Linked DNA regions of Homo sapiens. The protein of the gene in region 1 purifies or fractionates together with the protein of each later gene. This does not show direct contact. Each region holds a gene or a part of one and is shown in the gene's direction. Other genes may lie near its edges.

What was found.
Region 2: the proteins of SPTAN1 (region 1) and NUCKS1 fractionate together in Homo sapiens (co-fractionation; one large-scale study listed by BioGRID). This does not show direct contact.
Region 3: the proteins of SPTAN1 (region 1) and PSMB7 fractionate together in Homo sapiens (co-fractionation; one large-scale study listed by BioGRID). This does not show direct contact.
Region 4: the proteins of SPTAN1 (region 1) and LMO7 fractionate together in Homo sapiens (co-fractionation; one large-scale study listed by BioGRID). This does not show direct contact.
Region 5: the proteins of SPTAN1 (region 1) and TSPAN3 fractionate together in Homo sapiens (co-fractionation; one large-scale study listed by BioGRID). This does not show direct contact.
Region 6: the proteins of SPTAN1 (region 1) and TAGLN purify together in Homo sapiens (co-immunoprecipitation; one large-scale study listed by IntAct). This does not show direct contact.
Region 7: the proteins of SPTAN1 (region 1) and CTPS2 fractionate together in Homo sapiens (co-fractionation; one large-scale study listed by BioGRID). This does not show direct contact.

Annotation. Positions count from the first base shown.
Region 1 is NC_000009.12:128,580,087-128,583,586, forward strand, and holds part of SPTAN1 (spectrin alpha chain, non-erythrocytic 1), read left to right. Parts: intron 1-835; coding exon 836-973; intron 974-1,695; coding exon 1,696-1,806; intron 1,807-2,392; coding exon 2,393-2,470; intron 2,471-2,607; coding exon 2,608-2,763; intron 2,764-2,990; coding exon 2,991-3,195; intron 3,196-3,500. UniProt on the Homo sapiens protein: Fodrin, which seems to be involved in secretion, interacts with calmodulin in a calcium-dependent manner and is thus candidate for the calcium-dependent movement of the cytoskeleton at the membrane.
Region 2 is NC_000001.11:205,715,753-205,719,182, reverse strand, and holds part of NUCKS1 (nuclear ubiquitous casein and cyclin-dependent kinase substrate 1), read left to right. Parts: intron 1-703; coding exon 704-903; 3' UTR 904-3,430.
Region 3 is NC_000009.12:124,356,443-124,359,942, reverse strand, and holds part of PSMB7 (proteasome subunit beta type-7 precursor), read left to right. Parts: intron 1-756; exon of another isoform or gene 757-3,027; coding exon 3,028-3,179; exon of another isoform or gene 3,180-3,500. UniProt on the Homo sapiens protein: Component of the 20S core proteasome complex involved in the proteolytic degradation of most intracellular proteins. This complex plays numerous essential roles within the cell by associating with different regulatory particles.
Region 4 is NC_000013.11:75,856,330-75,860,366, forward strand, and holds the end of LMO7 (LIM domain only protein 7), read left to right. Parts: intron 1-176; coding exon 177-279; intron 280-1,591; coding exon 1,592-1,614; coding exon of another isoform or gene 1,615-1,684; 3' UTR 1,685-3,537; downstream 3,538-4,037.
Region 5 is NC_000015.10:77,047,110-77,050,609, reverse strand, and holds part of TSPAN3 (tetraspanin-3), read left to right. Parts: intron 1-3,500. UniProt on the Homo sapiens protein: Regulates the proliferation and migration of oligodendrocytes, a process essential for normal myelination and repair.
Region 6 is NC_000011.10:117,202,370-117,205,166, forward strand, and holds part of TAGLN (transgelin), read left to right. Parts: intron 1-632; 5' UTR 633-644; coding exon 645-824; intron 825-937; coding exon 938-1,115; intron 1,116-1,412; coding exon 1,413-1,515; intron 1,516-1,845; coding exon 1,846-1,990; 3' UTR 1,991-2,797. UniProt on the Homo sapiens protein: Actin cross-linking/gelling protein. Involved in calcium interactions and contractile properties of the cell that may contribute to replicative senescence.
Region 7 is NC_000023.11:16,699,170-16,702,669, reverse strand, and holds part of CTPS2 (CTP synthase 2), read left to right. Parts: intron 1-3,500. UniProt on the Homo sapiens protein: Catalyzes the ATP-dependent amination of UTP to CTP with either L-glutamine or ammonia as the source of nitrogen. Constitutes the rate-limiting enzyme in the synthesis of cytosine nucleotides.

The DNA of each region.
Region 1 (3,500 bases):
AGGATTGCTTGAGGCCAGGAATGGGAGACCATCCTGAACAACATAGTGAGACCCCCATCTGGACAAAAAATTAATAAATTAGCCAGACATGGTGGCACATTCCTATAGTCCGAGCTACTTGAGTTCAAGGTTATAATGAGTTATGATTTGCACCACTGCACTCTGGCTTGAGTGACAGAGTGAGACCCTGTCTCTAAAAAAAAATAAATAAATAAAAATAAAATATGTATATATATACATATTTTATTTTACTTTTTTTATATGTGTATATATATACACATATGTATATAAGTTTTGAAGTATCTTCGAGTATAAAATTGCCTAGGAACATTAGATAAATAATGATTTATATGATTTATATGTTTTTTAGTATTACATAGAGTAAAGACATTTCAAAGACTTGTCATTAGTAGCTTCGGAGCCTAAAGTCTAGGGAGTTTCTGAATTTATTTTCCATATGTTATGGAGCACCCACTCAGTTGACATTTCTTAGTGGAGAGTCCCTACTCCATTTATACTCCATTAAACTCCATTTATACTGCCTCACTTTTAAATGGATGCCCTATTTCTTCTACCTGGGAGTTTACTTACTGTTTTTACCTAAAGTCATTTGTGATCATTTGGCAATAAATTAATTCTAGATTAATTAAAACAGGCCATCCCTTTTATATTGAACATGCACATACAAGTGAATGTTGTTTTTCCCCTTTTGCAAATCGGAAAAAAGGCCTGAAGATTAGCACTAGGATTAGGAATTCCAGGATAGCTGTTCTGTCTGCCTCGGAGGCATTGGGGCTGACCTCATCTCCCTGACCATGTCTCCTATGCCCCCAAGCTGACCGTCCTTTCCGAGGAGAGAGCGGCGCTGCTGGAGCTGTGGGAGCTGCGCAGGCAGCAGTACGAGCAGTGCATGGACCTGCAGCTCTTCTACCGGGACACTGAGCAGGTGGACAACTGGATGAGCAAGCAGGAGGTAATCTGTGAGCAAAGCCTTGCCAGTGGTGGGAGAAGAAGGGCCTGTGTTTTGCCTCCTCGGGTAGTGTGCTTGTTTTGTTTTAGGACATCAGTACCATGTTAGTTCTGAATCCATTGAAGAGGGGGAATTGAGCAAGCTTCTCTCAGCTCTGCCAGCATCTCTCCCTGCTGAGATTGCAAGGCCTTCAGAAAAGGCCCCAGCTTTTCAGATTAGTGTGATGTAAAATGTTTTATTAAAGAGATTTTTTTCTTAGAACTTAGCATTGCTGGGTGCAGTGGCTCCCTGCTGTAATCCCAGCACTTTGGGAGGCTGAGATGGGAGTATCCCTTGAGCCCAGGAGCTCAAGGCTGCAGCAAGCTATGATCGTACCACCGCACTCTAGCCTGTGCAACAGACCGAGATCCTGTCTCACAAAAAAAAAAAAAACAAACAAAAAAAACAAACCTTAGCATTATGTAACATCTGAATCTAATAGAAGCAACAAAAACTATGTAAGAGAAGTTTCAATAGAATGTGGAATAGGATTTCATGATATGGCTGGATTGATTTTAAGAAAATCCAAAAGGACTTTAGACTTCCTAGAAGAGATCTTAGAAGTTTAGCAGCCATAAAATCTCTTTCCTTCTTTTTATATTTTGGCCAAAATACCCTTTGCTTCACAGTCTTAGAAGATCAAAGGAATAGGACATTATTCTGAACACTTTGTTTCCTTTGGCAAGGCGTTCCTGTTGAATGAAGACTTGGGAGATTCCTTGGATAGTGTGGAAGCGCTTCTTAAGAAGCACGAAGACTTTGAGAAATCCCTTAGTGCCCAGGAGGAAAAGATTACAGTAAGACCCCTTCTTGTCAGTGCTTTCAAATGACCCTTATAGTAAGCCAGAGTCTTTTTCCCTGGAAGGATTCCAAACAGATTTGATGAAAGATTCATATGCAGAGTACTCCTGTGGGTGCTTAAACTTTCACAAGGATGACATGCTATCTCGTTGAAGACATAATACAACTTTATGGAAAAATGATTTACTTAATGGAAACCTCCAAACTTCTTTAAGTTTGTACCCTTCATTAAAAGTAGGTCAGGGTTAATATTAAGAGGTACTCTTCCCATTGAAAATACATCTTAGAAATAAGAATTTGGAAAGCTGTTAACCTGTGTTTGACCCCTGCCAGGAGATCGTGCCACAACTAATGTCTCCAGTCTTGAATGGAGGTAGTGCAGTCTTATGATATCTGACTGGTGACATCAAGCAAAATCTCAAAAGTTATGAGAAAAAATGTCATCACCAACCTTTGGGTGAAAACCTTGACCTATGTTAAAGTTTGGTGTGTTTTATGATCTGTTCAGCAGTTACTTTTCTCCAGAGGCCAAGCTTGGGACTAGTGTGCTTACCAATGAAGAACTCTTATCTTCCTTCCTAGGCATTAGATGAATTTGCAACCAAGCTAATTCAGAACAACCACTATGCAATGGAAGATGTGGCCACTCGCCGAGATGCTGTAAGTTTGTAGGTTCTTCATGCTCCTCCTTTTTGGTACATGAATGTCTCTTCTAAGATGTTCCAGTTAAGTCTCTTCAACTGGATATCCCTTTGGGAGTGAACACTAGAGACTCACAGGGGATCCTTGTCTTTCAGCTGTTGAGCCGCCGCAATGCCCTTCACGAGAGAGCCATGCGTCGCCGGGCCCAGCTAGCCGATTCTTTCCATCTGCAGCAGTTTTTCCGTGATTCTGATGAGCTCAAGAGTTGGGTCAATGAGAAGATGAAAACTGCCACAGATGAAGCTTATAAAGTAATGTACTGTTAGTGTTGCCATGTAGCACTCGATTAGTAAGCTAAACACAGCTCTCACAAATAAATTGTAGCTAAAGGACGAAATAAGGGATTCCAGAAACCCCACTACTTAATGTAAGCCAACTGTTTTATACATTCCTCCATAAAGATAAGTATGAAGGTAGTGCAAGGGAACTTGACGTTCTCAGGTTCAAGATAGAAAGAACCCCCTTCTTTTATTCACAGGATCCATCCAACCTACAAGGAAAAGTACAGAAGCATCAGGCTTTTGAGGCTGAGCTCTCAGCAAACCAGAGCCGAATTGATGCCTTGGAGAAAGCTGGCCAAAAGCTGATTGATGTCAACCACTATGCCAAGGATGAAGTGGCAGCTCGTATGAATGAGGTGATCAGTTTGTGGAAGAAACTGCTAGAGGCCACTGAACTGAAAGGTAAGAGATGTTCCATTGAATTGTGACATGCATGTTTGGGGAACTAAATACCCCTTTCTATTAAGTATTTTAGGGACATATACCCCCCAAGAAAGGTGAGGTGGATGACTTTGGCGTTAGGGATAATTTCCTGTGTAGGAATTACTTGGCTTAAGTTCTTGATAATAATTTGGTAAATGTGGTCGAGCATACTGGTTGGTGAGGGAGTCTGAGTGAGAAGGAACTGAATTGGGCCTCATTGCTGAAAATCAAAGTTCAGCTGAGAGCCAAGGGCATTTACTAATTCTCCAGTGTCCTTATATCTC
Region 2 (3,430 bases), on another chromosome or scaffold:
AGCAAAGACTTAATTGTGAAAATGCACAAACCTAGAGTAATACGTTTAAGTTCCACGTTCTGAACTCTACCCCATCCTCTGTGCTATCAGAATAAAACCACACTTGATGACATGAGTTGATTTTTTTCTGAGCCCTAATGGTTTCTCCTCGTTGGAGCTAGTTTGTTAACTAAATCAGAAATCAATTTGCTTTTTGTGTAGGTGGTTTTATTCTGTTAGGTAGAACTAGTCATTGTTAAACTTCTGTTTATCACTTCCTACTGTTAGGAATGATGGAACTATCAAATGTTATTTGATGGCTTTAGTTTCTGATCAGATTAATTCTTTTCCTTCCGTCTTTTTGACCTGCTTTTTATAAACAACTTTTATCATAAACAACTGTTAGTTTACCAAGCAATTAAGGATGTTGTGCATATTCTATAGCATGGTGCTTCTTCTTTACAGGTATTACTGCTAACATCATAGAGTGTTGGTAAAAACTGATGGGAAATACTGTAGCATAGTGTAGTAACTTATGACCAGTTTAGAAACTGAGATAGATTTACCTAGGGATATATGTGCTCCCTTGTGCCCACCTTGGTTTTTAGTAAGTTGCATATTGTCTTTATAGATTTTATTCTTACAGATTGTTGTATTTTGTAGCTGACTTTTATTAAAGACATTTTTTTCTCTTCCCTTCCCCAAATTATTTTTCTATTTTCAGTGACGCCAAGTCCAGTGAAAGGCAAAGGGAAAGTGGGTCGCCCCACAGCTTCAAAGGCATCAAAGGAAAAGACTCCTTCTCCCAAAGAAGAAGATGAGGAACCGGAAAGCCCGCCAGAAAAGAAAACATCTACAAGCCCCCCACCCGAGAAATCTGGGGATGAAGGGTCTGAAGATGAAGCCCCTTCTGGGGAGGATTAAAAGTGATGATGGTCTGGGGAGAGATTTTATTAAAAAAAAAAAGAAAAAAAAAGAAAAAAGAGGGAGGAAAAAAAAGAACCTACTTAAGATAGAACATGGTTTTGGCTATGGCTTGACTCATGGGCTTTCAGTGCTTTTTTCCATTTGTTGAAAGTAACATTTCTCTCTCTCTCTCTTTTTTTTTTTTTTTTTTTAAAGCAAACCATTGTATGTGTAAGTGTTTAAGTTACCTTTTTGTCTATTGGTCTCTTTGCCAGCCCTCCCCTTTCCCAATGAAAGCCATGTCAAATTAATCACTGGATTGACTGCTTCATCTTTTTATTTTTAATGAAAGGTGTACCACGGTTGTAAAGCAATAAGATTTGAGATGAACACTATTGAAACTTCGCTTTTTGCTAAAAAATAGCAAGTTGAATAGTAATCAAAAAACATAGAAAGATTTTAGTTCAAAATGATTGCTCCTTTCTCTACCTGGACTTTTAAAAAATCAATTGTCATCTAATATGAGTTTATTTGTCTATAGACACAAGTATCAATGTCTAAAAAAAATCATGACTTTAAACTTCCACCGATGAGGCAGGTAGGAGATAAAGATGAATTCTGAACTGTTACTAAAAGTACTCATTTTTTACCTTGTAGGGAGGGTGGGCAATGGGGTTACCTGACCTTATTTGAGGGTATGGGCTTTCTTTTTTATTTCATCACTTGTTATCTCAAAGAGACTCGGAGCCAGTGATCCTTTTATCCTGCTACAGTCTTTAGGGAGCTAAAAAAAAAAAAAAAGCAGGGGCTGCCAAAACTCTTGATTTCATATTTCCTTCTCTAAATATATATGTATCCTGTTTTTTGGATAAAATTTTACCAAGAATCCAAAAAAAAAAAAACCCTAGAATTTAATCAACAAGATCAGTCTACAGGTCACAGTGGATTTCTTTTCAAACTGACAATGTTTAGGTTTTAAGCAAATAAAGTTCCAGTTAATGTGAAACTCAGTCACAAAGAGTTGAGATTTTTCCTTTATGAAATAGAATTGACATTCTTTTATGCTATAAATGTGCATTCAGGTCCCATTAACCATGCTCTGCTTTTATTTGGGGATAGAACATTTTCTTTTTCATATCCCGATCTTCCCATTTCTTCATAGAAATGTGATAAGAAGTACATCCCTGTGATCCTGCTGCTTCGTAGAGCACCACTGCACACCCTACCCCGAGTGCCAACCACCTCTGCTATAGGACACTATTTTCCTGGCCCTATTCTTCACTTACTTCCCATCCTGTCCTTGACTAGGAATATGTTAAATGCTGCTCCCATACAATTCAGTTAGCTCTTGTCTTTTTATTTGGTCCAACCCCTGCTTTACTGCTCATGCTGCTTAAAGCAGGAGGGACTAGAGAAACAAGGCATTTTAGGAGGCCTGTGTGCAGTTGAAAACCGACTTTTACACGCCTTATAAAAGCAGTCAGGAGATAGATCCGTAGGTTTGATCCTTCACATCTAATACCAGGCGCTAATGGGAACAAGGTTTAAAGGGTCCTGGTATGCTAATAAATTGAAAAATTAGTGAAATTTAAACTTCTGCCTTTTTTTCCTGCCTTTTAATCTAGATTTGCTTCCTCAATATCCTACTTTGTGGTTTACTAGGAACATGCTTACTCTGATCTTTTTTTAAAAAACACACAGTGGCAGAGTCATTTCACTATTGCACTGTGTGTTAAAGAATGAATAAGGAGTTTTCAGTTACATGGCCAAAAATACAGGACTTGAACATAAATAGCAGTTGGATCATTCTCTTTCATGACGGTTAAATTCAGAGGTGTGAACTTTGTAATGAGGGTGTTAAAGATTAATCTATTTGCCTAAATGGGTTTGTTCAGGTATCCATTTTTAACAAAGAAGTTTGTGTTCATATAGTAAAAGACCTATCAGTGTTTCCACCATGCACTTCTATTTTTTAGGAGTTTATAATTTTAAGTCTTACATTCCTAGTAACATTTGGGCTTTTCTTAGGTTATGTTTCGTGAAGATTTGGGGGGAGGGCTCTTTTAAAACTTCAGCCTCAGTTGTTTAACAGTCTCTTTAATATATTAATCTGCACTAACATCTCTGTGATATATGCACATATTTTAGAGGTAATCATGTCTTCTAGATTACTTGTGTGCATTTGATTGGGCTTCTTGTTTAGGGTCCCTTTTAAAATTAATTCATTAGATTGAAAAATGTATTCTATATTTCTGATAGACTGGACAGAAGGATCTGTGTCCCCAAGTGAGACAGGCTCTGAATAACCTTTGTTTTCTCCACTTTTTATTGATGATTTAAAACACTCTAGTCTTCCCCTCAAATCATGCATGCAAATAGGAGGACAGTGGTGGTGACTCAACTGGATACAGGTGCTCAATAGTCAGGCTTGATAGTGATGTCAGGACGCATTACAAGCTGTAAGCCGATACTGACTGGCCATTGGCACCATCCTTGACTAACCTTCCTCTTTTTCTCTAGTGTGCCTATGGTGAAATGGCAATAG
Region 3 (3,500 bases), 4.2 Mb from region 1:
TTATGAGGGTTTGGGGTGTTAAGGGAGGGATATGTTAAATAAGACCTTAGATCTTAATATTGATCTGGTGTTGCATTGTAGAGATGTTGCCCTAACTTGGTTGAGAATGAAGAAGGCCCTTGAAGTGGTAGTCTTGGGTATTTTGGGAAACACTGCCCTCCAACCCCCAATGGGAGTGACCATCAGAGGAGCTGCTGGTTGGCCCAGAGAGAAACCGGCAAACACCATCCTCCTCCTCTTAAATTTACCCAGGTCTTAAGGCTCTTTGGTGGTGGGGCGTGAATGACACAGCCTTGAGTCAGGGACTAGCTGAGGAGCCCCCGGCCCAAGGAAGGTCACTTGCGAGTTGGTGTGGTGCTGCGGCCTTGTGGCTCTGGGGCCTGATGGGCCTGTTTTACTATTTTTTGTTTACCTGCTGTGTGACCTTGTGTAAGTCATTGACCGTCAGCCAGAGTTTCTGACCATACCAACATCAAAAGATGGTTGGGGGCAGGGGTGAACATGATGATCATCAAAGTGCCCAACTCAGGGCTTGGCACGTTAGAGTGCTGGTAGATGTTGATTGATTGATTGTTTTAGTGAGCATATAGGTGCTCCATAAATCTAAGTTTCATTCCATCTCCTAACATCTTCAGCCATGTGTATATGAGACATGGAGTGGGACTGGGGGGAAAAAAGTGAGAAACTTGAGATTTTCTTCCTTAAGGAATGATCTTCCCTAGAATTGGTGGGGAGGAAAGGAATTTAAAAGATGTATTTTCCCAATTTAAAAAAGCCTTTATTCATACTTAAATAACAGCATACATGATAATTTGATGAGTAAATCAAACTATATAATTTTAAAATTTGCATATTTTAAAGTTTTATCAGTTACTTACAGACTGTTTGCAAAATAGAGGGAGGATCACTCATAATCTTACATAGCACTGTCAGCAGTCTGCTGTCCTGTGCCCAGTCGAATGGATTGACACTAGATATGCATGTCTCATGTCATTCGTATATTTCCGTTTCCCCAAGTCTTCACCTGTCCCCATCTACCCAGATCATTTGGGAAATGTAAATGTGCAGTCCTAAGCGCTGCCCGCAGGGTCGCGATGTCTGCCAGGTACTGCTGGCTGGCTCTAGACACCAGCAGCAGTGATAAGAAACAAAGCAGAGGAGACAGTTAAATGGTAGAGAAGAGAAGGGGGAGCAGAGGTGGTAGGCCGGGAACAGGGGAATAAGTATGGTTCTCCCCGCACGTGCCCATGTGCGCACACACCGAAGGCCATTTAAAGGGAAGCGGTTAGGTATGAGGTTGTGTTTGCTGAATTAGTGGTTGGTTTTTGCTGTCTATCTAGATAGCAGCTGCTGCCAGCTCCTCGTCTAAGAGGCTTTCTTTGCTGCCACCTTCACTGGTTTGTGGAAAGCTTCTGGCCCCATAGACTGTTGAGAATTCCAGGAGAAAATTCCTAATTAGCGGATCCCGTTTGAATGCATTCTTACAGGACTGCATATGTACAAAAGAAGAATTGGCTTCATTGGCCCCACATAGATGTCACGTGAGAGTGAAAAAACCTGGGGTATAAATATCAAAGGAACCCCTATCTGCTGGTTTGCTGAGGAGCCCACTTCCAGCAGAACCTTCTCTGTCCTTCTGAGTCTGTAGAGGGCGCTTATGTCACTGGAATCCTAGTCTGGCATGGGGCAGGCAGAGGAGCAGGAGCCCCCAGTGGGTTCAGATCTTCTGAAAACTTGAGGTTAGCGGATCTGCCCTTTGAGGGTCTCAGGCTGGATTTGGGCCTGGAGTCCGTGTTTCTCCAAGGGTGTTGCTTGGGTGAGCGCTGGAGTGCACTTGCATGTGTATGTACTCTCACGCCCTCGTGGACTGGGAAGGCGCCGTAGCACAGGTTAGATTCCCTGCTTTCAGGGAGCCTGGTTCATTTTTGTCCTCGTTGTATATAGAGCTTGAACTTGGTGTTCCCCAGGTCCAGTACCACTGCCGTTGCTGCCTGCCTTCTGTTTCACTGCTGTTTTCTGAGTGCCTCGTGTGCAGCCTGTCCTTCAGCCCTCCCTGAAGCTCTGCTGACCAGCTGTGTTCCCAGCTCCTTTTCACGTGCTCTTTAGCCAGCCTTACCCTGCATTGTACTTACTTGGGTCAGGTGCCCCTGCTAGACTCTTAAGCCCCTAGGGGGCAGGGATCTGGGGGCGTCATCCACCTCTGCAGCCCTAGCTTCTGGTATAGCATGTGATAGGACATAGCATGTGATGGGGCTTCTCGGATAAGAAAGGGATGAGTCCATCTGTTCACCAGTAACTATTAGGGATGGGGATTTGTGTTTAAAGGTGGGGCAAAGGAGAGAGTGATTCAAAGTAATGGATTACTTCAGTGAACCTATAGGTTCCTTAGTAGGAGAGAGAGATTATTCTGGGCAAGAGGTCCCGCCCTTGGTCTGCCAGCATTTCCCCAGAACTACCGGCTTGTGTTTTGGTGTTAGTTTCTTCCTCCTACAGTGCTGACTTTCTCAAGTAACTTTCAGCTATTGTTGGACATTCTTGATCAGGGGATAGTTAGTAAACTGCAGTCAGTGGGCCAGATCTGGCCCACTGCCTGTTGCTAATAGAGTTTTATTGGAACACAGTTATACCCATTTTTTAATGTATTTGTGTGTGGCTGTTTTGTGCTAGCGTGACAGAGTTGAGTAGGTGTGGTAGAGACTTTTGGCCACAAAGCCTAAAATATTTACTACCTGGCCCTTTTAAAGATAAGTTACTAACCCTCTAGTAACTGTCAGCCCATCGTTTTGTGGTGATTGTCTGATGTGGTCAAGAGGCGGTGCATGCATAAAAAGTTTTAAAGGCCTGGGTCGGGAACTTTGGGTAAATAATCAAGGTACTTTGAGATCTTTTCCTCATCTGTGAGATGGGCATTAAAAACAACACCTGTCTCGCGGGAGGTCTTGCGCACTGCTAGTGGACGTACATTGCGGATGTCAGAGCAGGCCCTAGTTTGGCCGGGGACATTATTGCCGCCGTTCTGTTTCTCAGGAGGAGGAAGCCAAGAATCTGGTGAGCGAAGCCATCGCAGCTGGCATCTTCAACGACCTGGGCTCCGGAAGCAACATTGACCTCTGCGTCATCAGCAAGAACAAGCTGGATTTTCTCCGCCCATACACAGTGCCCAACAAGAAGGGGACCAGGTGAGTGAAGGAGACGAAGTTCTTCCTGGGTCCCCTGGCGTCGTGGCCACCCTTGGTATCTCCATGGCATCTGGATGGAGTTTTCCTGGTTCTTTCCACATTAAGTACATCCAGTGTTCCCAAATCAACCTCCCACACAGACCTTCGGCTTGTTACTTGCTTTATGACAGTGGGCTGCTGTCAGGTGTAGGAAAGTGATTTAATTTGATGGGAGAGGTGGAGGGTGGCCCAGGAAAGAGCCCTAGGCTGGGAGGTGGGGCCGGAGAGGTTTGGATCATCTGCTGTCCTTTCTCAAGTGTCTTAAAGAATCCCCTGATTTCT
Region 4 (4,037 bases), on another chromosome or scaffold:
TATCTGGCGGTCTTGATTTGAATCTACTAATCATCTTTCGGCCTTTTTTTTTCTTTGCTGAAATGTATCTAAGAGCTTAGAAGTAGCATTCTGCTCATTTCCCCCCCACCCCCAGGAGTGCCCCAAGCTTTCTTGAGCTGACTGATTGTAGATGTTCTTTTTTTTTTGTTCCCCAGTGTGTTGCCTGTGAGTGTGACCTCGGAGGCTCTTCCTCAGGAGCTGAAGTCAGGATCAGAAACCACCAACTGTACTGCAACGACTGCTATCTCAGATTCAAATGTAAGAGAGCAAATCAGAGAGAAAATTTCTTGCCTTTTAAGGAGGCCACGGGTTCCCATGCATTTCCCTGAACCTGCAGCGAGCTCCCCTCCAAGTTCACTGCCATAGGATTCCAGGTTTCAAGAATTGTAGTGTGTTCCCTTCAAAGAGTGTGTATAGTGAATGGGTCACTGCTCAGGGTTCCAGCTACACAGGAGTGGGTTGTGGGGCCAAGGAATGGAGAGGAACAGTGTCCAAAAGTCAGGATGGTGTCTTGTGTTATCTGCCCAGAGTCCGCAGAGACCTTTAATGACTCAAGAATACAAACAAACCAAAACACTTAAATGAATCTTCTATGTAGGATTTGTTTCTTGACTAAAGATTGGTCCCTCATCAACTTCTATTATTTAACAATGGGCTTTGATTATGTGATTTAGAATATGACCAACTTTAAAAAATATTGTTCCATGTAATACAAAATAAGTCAGTTTATGCTTTATGTTAATATATGTCAATATATAATTTTAAAAGGAAAGTATTAACTATGGTGTTTCAGTGTCATTTTTGGAAAAAATGAGTTTTTCAAAAAACTTCAAATGCTACTTTGCATCTAAGCATGTGTTTGTGTGTTATAAAAGGTAGGCTAGCATAACTAGGTTGTGTGTTGTGTATAGCTACAGCAAGACAAGTATTACTGCTGTTTTATATTTTAAACCTTGATGCTGGTAACATGTGTTTCTTCCTTATTGTGAAAGGGTGTTACAAGTGGTATCAGCAAAATCATTTGCTTTTGAACTCTGAGGTATTTATATGGCCCCTATGTGAAGAGTGCTTTGGAAATGGTTTAAGCCCAGTCAACTCTCTTTTATCTGTCGGTGGGTTCTGAGCCTTCCTGCTGCAGCTGTCCAGTCCTTTCCTGGATGCTGACACTGAGGTTGGAGAAAGTCAAGGCTGGGCATGTACTGGTGGGGGGTGTGTGTATGTGTGTGTGTTTTTCTCTCTCTCATCAAATTCCAAAGCCAAATAGAAATGATTTCTGGAATCACCATTGTAAAATTGCCCATGCCTTTTCTCTCCTCCAAAACAAATAATAGAGAGTTGAGTGTAATTTATTTCTATTGTGAGCAGTTCATTTTTACTCCATTTTTACAAATAAAGAATTCCAGAGACGAGACACTGAGACTTGCCTAGCTTTATCCTAAGAGTGAGTGACAGGTTACTCTTTCTACCTCATTGGGCCACTTTCTGAGTGATGACTGCTATGTATCCCAGATGGCAATATTCACGTTTCTGAATCTAAGCACTTTTCTTTCTTTTCTCCTTGCCCGATCAGCTGGACGGCCAACCGCCATGTGATGTAAGCCTCCATACGAAAGCACTGTTGCAGATAGAAGAAGAGGTGGTTGCTGCTCATGTAGATCTATAAATATGTGTTGTATGTCTTTTTTGCTTTTTTTTTAAAAAAAAGAATAACTTTTTTTGCCTCTTTAGATTACATAGAAGCATTGTAGTCTTGGTAGAACCAGTATTTTTGTTGTTTATTTATAAGGTAATTGTGTGTGGGGAAAAGTGCAGTATTTACCTGTTGAATTCAGCATCTTGAGAGCACAAGGGAAAAAATAAGAACCTACGAATATTTTTGAGGCAGATAATGATCTAGTTTGACTTTCTAGTTAGTGGTGTTTTGAAGAGGGTATTTTATTGTTTTTTAAAAAAAGGTTCTTAAACATTATTTGAAATAGTTAATATAAATACATAATTGCATTTGCTCTGTTTATTGTAATGTATTCTAAATTAATGCAGAACCATATGGAAAATTTCATTAAAATCTATCCCCAAATGTGCTTTCTGTATCCTTCCTTCTACCTATTATTCTGATTTTTAAAAATGCAGTTAATGTACCATTTATTTGCTTGATGAAGGGAGCTCTATTTTCTTTACCAGAAATGTTGCTAAGTAATTCCCAATAGAAAGCTGCTTATTTTCATTAATGAAAAATAACCATGGTTTGTATACTAGAAGTCTTCTTCAGAAACTGGTGAGCCTTTCTGTTCAATTGCATTTGTAAATAAACTTGCTGATGCATTTAACGAGTGGGTCGTCTTTTTCTTAGGTGTATGTGTCTGACCTCAGGCCTTTTAGCCATATTTCAGTATGTGGCCTTTTTTGATGTTATGTTTTATCCAGTAGCTTTACTAAGGTATAATTGATGTAATAAACTGCATATATTTAAAGTGTATACTTTGACAAATTTTGACATGGTGTATACCTTCGAAACTATGCCACAGTCTGGATGTGTTTACTGAAACATTTTAATAAGGAAGTTTATTTTTGATAAAGTTATGTTTTTGGATACAATATATTTGTATGGTGAGAGTGATGAATTGTTGGATCATTTGAATAAAATCTTTTACTAACCCCATGATAAAAGGAGAAGACAACAGTGAGCTTAGAATATCTATAAAGCAAAAAATGTAGTCTCTTGTTTAAAAAATCTGGAGCGGGAATGCAAGGATACAAAACTTTAGCATGCTTTGAGCAAAAATTTAAACTTACTGGAATCTTTTATAATAATGTAAGTGGAATGGAGGATTCTAGGAACTGAGAACTGTATTGGAATAGGTTCAAAATATGTAAGAAATGCTAATGTGGGAGATAAAAATTTTATTTAGTACTTATTCTGATTATTATTAAAGTAATAATGTGTTCCTTGAGGATAACTTGTCAAATGCCCCAAAGCATAAAGAATATAATTCTGAATCCCAAATTCCAAAGACAAGAACTCTGTGTTTGAATTCATTCTGCATATAATTATTTATAAGTATAGATTGTGAATTTTTCCATGTTCTTAAAATTATTTTTATCTTTTTTCATGGTTGCATAGTGCTCCATTGTTTGGCCTTGGTAATATTTAGTTGATAATTCCATTACTGTGTATTTTTCACTTGTTTCTAAGATCAAACATTTTAATATGTGCATGTTATATATAAATATGTAAATTCTGTGATACTCTATGATCATCTCTTTCTTTATATTATTTTCATAGACATGAAATAGTTGCTCAGAGATTATGCATTTTAAGACACTCATAGTATATATTGCCAAAGTGGTTTCCAGAAAGGCACTGCTGGCTTCGACTCCTATAAGCAGCACGTGGGCTTGTTCATCTCACTGCATGTTTATGAAGATACAGTTCTTTTGCCTTGTTCTCTGCCTGATGTGTATGCAGAGGCAGCCCTCAATATGCAGTGGTTGAATAAATGAATGAAGAAACCACTATCAATTTCTGCCTTGTTAATTCTGTTTTCCACTGTCCCCAGAGGATGCCTTAATTCTGCCATCATTTTCGTTTCCTTATCCAAAATCCTTTCTGACCATTGCTCCTTTTCATCTAAGCCTTTTGTCTTTTCATCTGCTCTTGTTTTCTTATGATTTTTTCCCCCATTTCTCACATTATCTTACTTAGTGATAACATTTCTGTTAGTACAAATTATAAGTACAGTTTTCAGAGCTATTTTCTTCTAGGATACCGGCTCTACATTTGTATAAGCCCTTGGGTATTTGTTACTTCACCTAGGAACAAGGGAAGAGTCCAGCCCTTCAACAAATTTTTTAATTCATACTTTATGCTCCAGGCACTGCTTTTGGCACCATGGGTAGAACAGTGAAGAAATACAGTCTTGGCTCTGATTGGTCTTATTTTTCTGGTTGAGGGAGGTGATAAAACAATACATGAAAAAATAACATGCAGGTGGCGATGAGAGCAACAAAGAACAAAT
Region 5 (3,500 bases), on another chromosome or scaffold:
ACTGTATGGTACTTGTGGTCATGAAATATGCAACATGTATATAGAAGACTGATAAAAATAATCACTTTAGCTATGTCCCTCATCTAGTTAAGCGGCTTAGCCTGCCAGACATTTCTTTATTAAATATTTTTCAATAGGGGCTAATAAATATTTTAACTAGTCTCTTAATTTAAATATGACTGCCATATGTGTTTTATACTTAAGTCACCCTGACTTAAGTAAAAGCTGATAAAGCTTGATTTTTTCACTTCAGCAAGGCTGCTTAAGTTTAGGGATTCAGAGCTTTCACAGACTCAAAACCTAGTGGTTTTGAAAATTTTAAAAACTTGGGTTTTAAGGGGAGAAAATTTATCTGAATTAATAATTTTCCCTAATTGTTTTTAAGAGTACCTGTAAACATTCTAAGCTTCTGGTATTCAAAATCTGATAGATTGGTGCCCTGGGTGTGGAAAACCTGAACAAAGGCAGAAATAACTGAAAGATCAGTGAGCTTTTGTGCTTATACACTGATCCTAATATAGACATTTAGAGCTGGAGAGGATGGTTGGAGAGTCTCCAGTCTTGGCCCTCTTTGTTTAGCCACAAAATTTTGGGTGAGCAAGGATAGTGTGGCATGACCATCACACAGAGTGTCAACTCTAGAGACCCCTGCCTTTGTTTGTACTCTGCCTCCAATTACAAGTATAAGATTTGCAGAAGATTAAATTCCTAAATTTTGTCAGGAAACCTGACAGTTAATTGACACTTTAGCTGGATAAAATACAGAGGTAAGATGGCAGAGTTGAGTAGTTACAATATTGATTGATTTTTGTCTTGGTTTGGAAAGCCTAAAATATTTATGATATGGCCCTTTAAGAAAATGTTTGGTGACTCTTGCTCTAGTCCATTAAATAATCTAGATTTGGGTAGGACCAAAGTGACCAAGAAAGAAAAACCTGAAAAATACCAATTAATTATAATAACAGGACTTTTGAATATAAAAGAATGAGGTTTTAAAAATTTTGATGTACCCCTTATTAATTAGCAGGATATTTCACTTCTTTGAGAGTAGCCACTCTCTTAACTCATGATCAATTATGAATTTTATATTTAAAGAATCTGGTCATAATAATTGACAAAAATCTAGATTTTGATTTGTCAAGCTCCTGAGTATCTGCTGTGAGTAAGGCTGTCTCTCTACAAAGGCAATACGGGGAAAATGTTCTAAGTCTTTACTTTGGGGTCTCATGAAGTTGGCATATCCTCAAGATAGAACGATCAAGAGCAGATTTCATAAAGAACTGTTTCCCAAGGCCATGTTGCTTTTTTTCTGGTCTCTGTGCCGCATGTGAAGCCGGTGGAGACTGCTCTTTCCTCCTCCTCCTCAATTACCAGTTATTCGTTAAAATGAGAAACTTCCTCCTCCTTCCCCTCACACCCTGGCCAACATTGCAAAATGTTATATAAATGAATTCATATAGTTTGCAACCTTTTGTACCTTCTTAAAAACAAATTAGTGTATTTTGGATATAGATCTGCCTTTTTAATTTCATGTCTGCATAGTATTCCATTTTATAGGCATACTTTAATCAATATTGATGGGCTGTTTATAGCAAAAATTTGTAACTATGAAATTACAGTATCAGAATGTATGAATGAATTTTGATAGGTATTTCCAATTTTTTCTCAGAAAAGAGTGTTTCTAATGTGCAAAAGTTCTTATTTTTGTATAAGAATGCCTATTTCCCCATACCACCAGCAACATGGTATATCATAGAACATTTTACTTTGCCAGTCAGTTTTTTTAATCACCACTAGTCATTTTTTTCAATTTTTGCAGTTGCTGGGTGTTATATTTGGGCTAAGTGAAGTTTAATTCTCATGCCTTGAATATTGCAAGAGAGTATTTCATTGCAAGAAATAATGTTGGAGATAAAATATTTGTGTAATGTTTCCAAGTATGTTGTTGGAATGTTTCAAAAATCAATGGAATTTCAGTATAGCAGGCCTTTGGAAATGAGCCTGTAATAGTTAATGGTGAGGATAAGAAATTATTATGTAGAGCTTAATATTCTTAAGCAGACTGATTCCCAAGCATGAGTAGAATTTTATCAAGTTTATTTGTTTTAAAATCAATACAAGTTGATTTCATTGAAATAAACAAATTGGGAAAGAAATACTTATTTCAGACCTCATTTTGAGAATGCTGGCTTCTCTAATAGAAGTTAACCAATTGAAAGGAGTGTGGGGAGGTGGGGGTGGGAAGAGAGATTTTTTTTCCCTTAGCAAACCAGTCATTTCTGAGCTTAGCATTTTTATTGCTCAATTTAACATTGCCTGAGAACATAATTGCATTTGAGTTTATAGCTGTTCTAACAATGTTTTGATGTACAGAGAACAGAAATGTATTTCTCTAGGAATTAGGTACTTCATCGGTCTAGAATTGACTTAAATTGTTTAGTAAACTTTAAATAATATTCACCTCTTAAGTGTGTTTAAGGTGCTTTGCAAATGGTGAAATGGTGCAAATGGTGCAAGTGGTGAAATAGTGAAACTGATGGATTTGAGCAGGAAATATATATCCCGAATGGGCAGAATATAGGTTAATGTGAGGGTAGAAATTGGAGTGGGTGACTTTATACCATGGAGAATTCAGATTGAGGACATCCTTATGTGTATGTGTGTCTTAGTAGTGGTTAATCTTCCACTTCAAACTTTGAGAGTCTGTTTATGGATTGGGTACATTTTGCGGAAATTAGATTGACCCCCAAATGTACAGAGGACCCTGTCTTTTAAAATCAAATAACTGAGGCTTTTCCTCATCAATGAGAAGTTAGAACAGCAAATTATCTCACAAAAAAATTATATTTTGGGAGAAGGTAGGTCAAAAATTCTAGAATCATTTTCTCTTTAATCCAGCTTAATCCTTTTGCTTATCCAAAATAACATGGCATGACTTTATTACTATTCCAATATGCTACCACAGAAGGTTTAGGACTTATTGAAATAAAATGATGACGGAAGAGTGACCTTTCAAAAGTAATATGTATGTAATACCACAGAACCGTGGATTTCAAAAATAGTGAATGTGAAGGAAACAAAAAACCTTCCAACTACATTTTTTTTGGCATCAGAATTTGTTTTCTACCATAGGGCTATTCACATACTGAATTTCGTTTTCCAAAAACCAAAAGACCTGAAAAGACCACTATTAAACACACACATTCTTGCTCATTCTACTCCCCAGGCCTTTGCTGTCCAGAATGGTAGCCACTAGCCACATGTGTCTACATTTAAATTAATTTAAATAAAATTAAAAGTGCAACTCAGTTGCAGTAACTATATTTCAGGTGCTCAGTAGTCACATGAGGCCACATGACAGTGCATATGTGGTATGTCTCCATCGCTGCAGAAAGTTCTTTCGGACAGCACTCGCTAGACTAGTAGTGGGGATGCCAAATAAGAGAGACTTGATTCCCTGCTGGCTTTACGAAGAGTTCCTGGGAGGGAAGCTGAAGCTT
Region 6 (2,797 bases), on another chromosome or scaffold:
AGAGCTGGAGTTCTGGAGTTCGGGCTTCCAGGCCAGGGCCTGCTTCTGGGTGAGAGTGGGAGGTAATGGTTGCTTGAGGCAGAGGCAGTAAACCCTCACACCCGCAGCTGGACAAAGGCACCAGCTGGCTGTATTCTGTGGGGGCAATGTGGCTTCTGGAAGGTCTCTCCAGTGGCTCTGTAGCTGGTCTTGGCAAAGAATGTTCTAGACCAAGGGTTGTCAAACTACAGCTCATGGGCCAAATCCAGCCTGCTGTCTGCTTTTGTAAGTAAAGTTTTATTGGAACAAAGCCATGTTCATTTGTTACATATTGTCTATGGCTGCTTTCACACTGCAACAGCAGAGACCATGTGTCCTGCAAAGCCTAAAATATGTTCTGTCTTATCCTTTACAAAAACAGTTTACTGACCCCTGCTCTAGACCTCCAAAGACCTGGTATCCTCTTTCCTGGTGTTCAAGTTCAGAGAGGTGTCTGGAGTAGGGGCTGAGCCTGGCCTGGATGGGCAGTGCTGTGACAAGTGTCTAGGATGGCCGGGTATCCTGCACAGAGCTAGAAGGCTGCCTGGCACGGGTGAAAGCAGAGCTGCTCCCTGACCCTCTGCCCCTCCCTCCTCCACCCTGGCCTGCTTTAGCTTTCCCCAGACATGGCCAACAAGGGTCCTTCCTATGGCATGAGCCGCGAAGTGCAGTCCAAAATCGAGAAGAAGTATGACGAGGAGCTGGAGGAGCGGCTGGTGGAGTGGATCATAGTGCAGTGTGGCCCTGATGTGGGCCGCCCAGACCGTGGGCGCTTGGGCTTCCAGGTCTGGCTGAAGAATGGCGTGGTGAGTGGCACCCTGGGCTAGGGCGCTGGGGGGCTGGGGTGTGCCACCCTGTGAGTCCTGGGCCAATCCCTGAGCTGACTGCTAAGCTGCGTCCTATGCCCTATGCCTGGTAGATTCTGAGCAAGCTGGTGAACAGCCTGTACCCTGATGGCTCCAAGCCGGTGAAGGTGCCCGAGAACCCACCCTCCATGGTCTTCAAGCAGATGGAGCAGGTGGCTCAGTTCCTGAAGGCGGCTGAGGACTATGGGGTCATCAAGACTGACATGTTCCAGACTGTTGACCTCTTTGAAGGTAGAGAGGAAGAGGCTGGGGGAGGAGGTGGGCAGGAGGACAGGGTGCTGGGACAGGGAGAGGGAATGACCAGAATATGCCACAACTAGGGGTGTGCTTGCCCGCACACAGCAGGGATGGGATATGCCGAGAATAACACGCCACGCTCACAGGGCCCACTGAGAGGCCTCCCTTGAATTGGGGACAACTCTTGGCCCTGGTTTGGCCATTTTTTTGTGAGAGACGGGGGCAGGCCCTGGCTTGGAGTCTTGTTTATACGTTCTTGATGTTCATCTCCTCTCTCCTGTCTTCTCACAGGCAAAGACATGGCAGCAGTGCAGAGGACCCTGATGGCTTTGGGCAGCTTGGCAGTGACCAAGAATGATGGGCACTACCGTGGAGATCCCAACTGGTTTATGAAGTATGTGGCCCCCAGGGAGCTTGGGTCTCCGCATGGGGTGGGAGGTGGCTTGTTCTAAGGAGCTTGCGGGAAGGATTAGGGGAAGCAGATAGCCAAGAAAGGATAAAGTGAGGGTCTGGGATGGGGAATAATGGGTCCTTAATACTCCTTGACCCCTCCCTTTCCACCCTCCTGCGCTCAGTCTCCCTAGCCTATGAGGCAAGCTAGATTAGGGAAAAAAAGTGCAACAGGAAGGCAATGGGATTGGGCTAGGACGTAACAGAGGGATCAGAAAACGGGTGGAAAACACACAGTTCTACCAAGTCTTTATCCTGGTTCCTCCTCTTCTAGGAAAGCGCAGGAGCATAAGAGGGAATTCACAGAGAGCCAGCTGCAGGAGGGAAAGCATGTCATTGGCCTTCAGATGGGCAGCAACAGAGGGGCCTCCCAGGCCGGCATGACAGGCTACGGACGACCTCGGCAGATCATCAGTTAGAGCGGAGAGGGCTAGCCCTGAGCCCGGCCCTCCCCCAGCTCCTTGGCTGCAGCCATCCCGCTTAGCCTGCCTCACCCACACCCGTGTGGTACCTTCAGCCCTGGCCAAGCTTTGAGGCTCTGTCACTGAGCAATGGTAACTGCACCTGGGCAGCTCCTCCCTGTGCCCCCAGCCTCAGCCCAACTTCTTACCCGAAAGCATCACTGCCTTGGCCCCTCCCTCCCGGCTGCCCCCATCACCTCTACTGTCTCCTCCCTGGGCTAAGCAGGGGAGAAGCGGGCTGGGGGTAGCCTGGATGTGGGCCAAGTCCACTGTCCTCCTTGGCGGCAAAAGCCCATTGAAGAAGAACCAGCCCAGCCTGCCCCCTATCTTGTCCTGGAATATTTTTGGGGTTGGAACTCAAAAAAAAAAAAAAAAAATCAATCTTTTCTCAGGCCTGGCTGGCAGAGTTTGATTTGCCCTGGTCACTTTTGTTATGGTTTCAGATCTGCGCAGGGGACAGGCAGGCATCTCGGGCTTGTATGTGTTCCTGGCTGCCGTCCTCTGAAGGACCCTTCATGTGCCAAGATTCCAGGACAGTCAGATTCTTTCAGAGGAAACAGGCCATAGAACAGGAGAGTGAATCTTGGGGACCGAAGGGAAAAAGGAGCCACTCAGCAGCATGCAGTGGCTTTGGGGAGACAGAGGAAAGGAGAGATTGCGAGTGGCAGAATTGTTTGGAAGGTTTTTATTTTGGAAAAGCTGTGCAGAAAAAAATTCAAGAAAATGTTGCTGTGAAAAGAGAAAAACAAATCTTAAGCATTAAAA
Region 7 (3,500 bases), on another chromosome or scaffold:
AATTTCTTTAGGATGTAGTTCCAGATTTAGAGTGACTAGATCGTATGCTATGAATATGTGAATTTTCTCATGGTCATTGATACATTGTTCATACCTCTGATGACATTCCAAATTAATCATCCCTTTTGGAAACATTGTATCTTTTGCACTACAGATTCTGTTTTATTTTTAACATAAAGGTAGTGTGTTTCTCTTAACATTTCCCACTGCCTGGAGTAACTATTATTAATGGTGACATTTTGATGTATGAGTATATTTGATTTATTTTTAAAATGGCATTAGCCCTTACATGCTATTTTTAAAAAACTTTTTATAAGGCCCAGTGCGGTGGCTCATGCCTGTAATCCCAGCACTTTGGGAGGCCGAGGCAGGTGGATCACGAGGTCAGAAGATCGAGACCATCCTGGCTAACACAGTGAAACCCTGTCTCTACTAAAAATACAAAACATTAGCTGGGCGTGGTGGCACGTGTCTGTAGTCCCATCTACTCAGGAGGCTGAGACAGGAGAATCACTTGAACCTGGCAGGCGGAGGTTGCAGTGAGCCAAGATCGAGCCATTGCACTCCAGCCTGGGCGACAGAGCGAGACTCTGTCTCAAAACAAACAAACAAACAAACAAACAAAAACAACAAAAAACCAACCCCCAAAAAAACCTTTTTATATACAAGCAAAAAAGTGCATAAATCATAAGTGTACAGTTGGATGAATTTTCATTAAATGAACACACTGTGTAACCAGCCCCTGATCAAGAAACAGAAATGTTCATGTCCTGCCGGGCGTGGTGGCTCACGCCTGTAATCCTAGCACTTTGGGAGGCTGAGGCGGGCGGATCACGAGGTCAGGAGATCGAGACCGTCCTGGCTAACACGGTGAAACCCCGTCTCTACTAAAAATACAAAAATTAGCCGGGCGCGGTGGCGAGCGCCTGTAGTCCCAGCTACTCGGGAGGCTAAGGTGGGAGAATGGCGTGAACCCAGGAGGCGAACTTGCAGTGAGCCGAGATTGCGCCACTGCACTCCAGCCTGGGTGACAGAGTGAGACTCCATCTCAAAAAAAAAAAAAATGTTTGTGTCCCTTGTTGCTATCCTGTCTTCCTGTTTTTGTTTTTTGAGACAGGGTCTCACTCTATCGCCCAGGCTGGAGTGCAGTGGCCAAGATCTCGGCTCAATGCAACCTCCACCTCCTGTGCTCAAGTGATCCTCCTGCTTCAGTCCCCTGGGTAGCTGGGATTACAGGTGTGCACCACCACACCTGGCTAATTTATGTAATTTTTTTATAGAGCTGGGATTTCGCCATGTTACTTAGGCTGGTCTCGACCTCCTGGGCTCAAGCAATCCTCCTACCTCGGCCTCCCAAAGTGGTGGTATTACAGGCATGAGCCACTGCAACAGGCATGAGCCACTGCACCAGGCCTTGAATATCGTGTTTTAAACTTTACTAACCTGAGAATAAAACAAACAAAAAGAGGGTATCTTATTGTTTTAATTTAGAGTTCTTTGATTTTGATTTTGTTTGTGAATGACTTATTCAAGTCTGTGGTAGATTGTATTTTTGCTTCAAAATGTTACCCACCATCCCTCTGTGGAGTACATTTCCCTGCCCTTTGACCTTGGAGTTTGGCCACGTAGGATAGTTAACTTGTCCTGGTTTGTTTGGAATGTTCCTGATTTTAAAACAGAAAGTCCTGTGTCCTGGGAGCCCTCTTAGTCCTGGGCAAACCAAGCAGGTTGGTCACTCTATTTGGCCATGTGATTTATTTTGTCCTATGGGATGTTAGGGAATATTAACATATGCCTTGTTGAAGCAGAAAATGTCAAATGCATCTGTGTGGTTTGGCTCAGTCTGTCTTGTGCTTCTGCCCTCTACCATGAGAACAGCCTGGTTTTCAGAGATTTCTCGTTCAGTCTGGGTCCTGGAATGAGAAGACACAAAGAATAGACTCACAAGTGACTCATAGCCCCCATGTAACATGAGGGAGAAATAAATAAATGTTTTGTAAGTTGCAGAGATTTTGGGGTTGTTTGTTGTGTGGCACCATTGACTAATGCCATGTGTTACACCAAATTTTCTTTGGATTTTTTTTTAATGATTTTTTTTTTCTTTTTTTGAGACAGAGTCTCACTCTGTCGCCCAGGCTGGAGTGCAGTGGTGTGACCTCGGCTCACTGCAACCTCCGCCTCCCAGGTTCAAGCGATTCTCCTACCCAGCCTGGCAAACATGGCGAAACTCTGTCTCTATTTAAAAAAATAATAGGCCGGGCACGGTGGCTCACGCCTGTAATCGCAGCATTTTGGGAGGCTGAAGCAGGTGGATCACGAGGTCAGGAGATGGAGACCATCCTGGCCAACATGGTAAAAACCTGTCTGTACTAAAAATACAAAAAAATTAGCTGGGTGTGGTGGTGCACACCTGTAATCCCAGCTACTCAGGAGGCTGAGGCAGGAGAATTGCTTGAACCAGGGAGTCAGAGGTTGCAGTGAGCCGAGATCGCACCACTGCACTCCAGCCTGGCGATAGAGTGAGACCCTGTCTCAAAATAATAATAATAATAATAATGGTAATACAAAGATTAGCCAGGCGTGGTAGTACATGTCTGTAATCCCAGCTACTTGGGAAGCTGAGACATGAGAATTGCTTGGATCCAGGAGGCGGAGGTTGCAGTGAGCTGAGATCACGCCACTGCACTCCAGCCTGGTTGACAGCGAAACTCTGTCTCAAAAAAAAACATTGAAAAAAAAAATTGAAAAAAAAAGTATTGTGATATCAATTTGCTTTTTTCCTTAAAATTAATTTTCTAGACCACAGTTATGTACCTTAGAATGGATAAATAAATTAGGATATAAAAGGCTTCTGATTAAATTTGTAAGTTAATCAACCTTTTTTCCTGTGGACATCTAACAGTAGGAATAAATGATAGTTCCCTTAATAGGGGAAAGGTTCAATTCTTACAAGGTGGCTTTAGAAACATACGACTCTCAGTCCATGCCCTGAAGTGACAATAGAGATCTACAGACGTGTCTAGTAGTTAAAGTTGGTGCTCCTCGTGTGACGAAGTCTGCACCTGTCTTTTATGACAGTGCATTGTGCACGTAGCTTATGGCACACACAGGCTTTTTCCCTCACTTTCACCAAGTTGCCTTATGGGTTAGCTGTGGCCTTGCTTTGTCATCTACTGTCTAATTATGGCTTTAATCAAGATGAGAATCAAGTAAAAGTTTCTTATCGCAGTTCCAGAGTCCAGGATACTGATGCTTTGAAGTAAAATGCTGTTTGTTTTTAAAATTTCTGTTTTCATGTCTTTTTTATGTGGCATATGTTGAGTTTGGAAAAGCTAAATCTTGAAGACAGAATTTCAGTAGATTAAAAAAAAACCACAATAGAATATTATAAATAGAATTTTCTGATGCATTTTCTTGGATATAATTGAATTGTTAATATCTCCACCAAAAAGGAGATGGTGATAGAATATGGCTTACAAATACATCTTTTACCAGCTTTT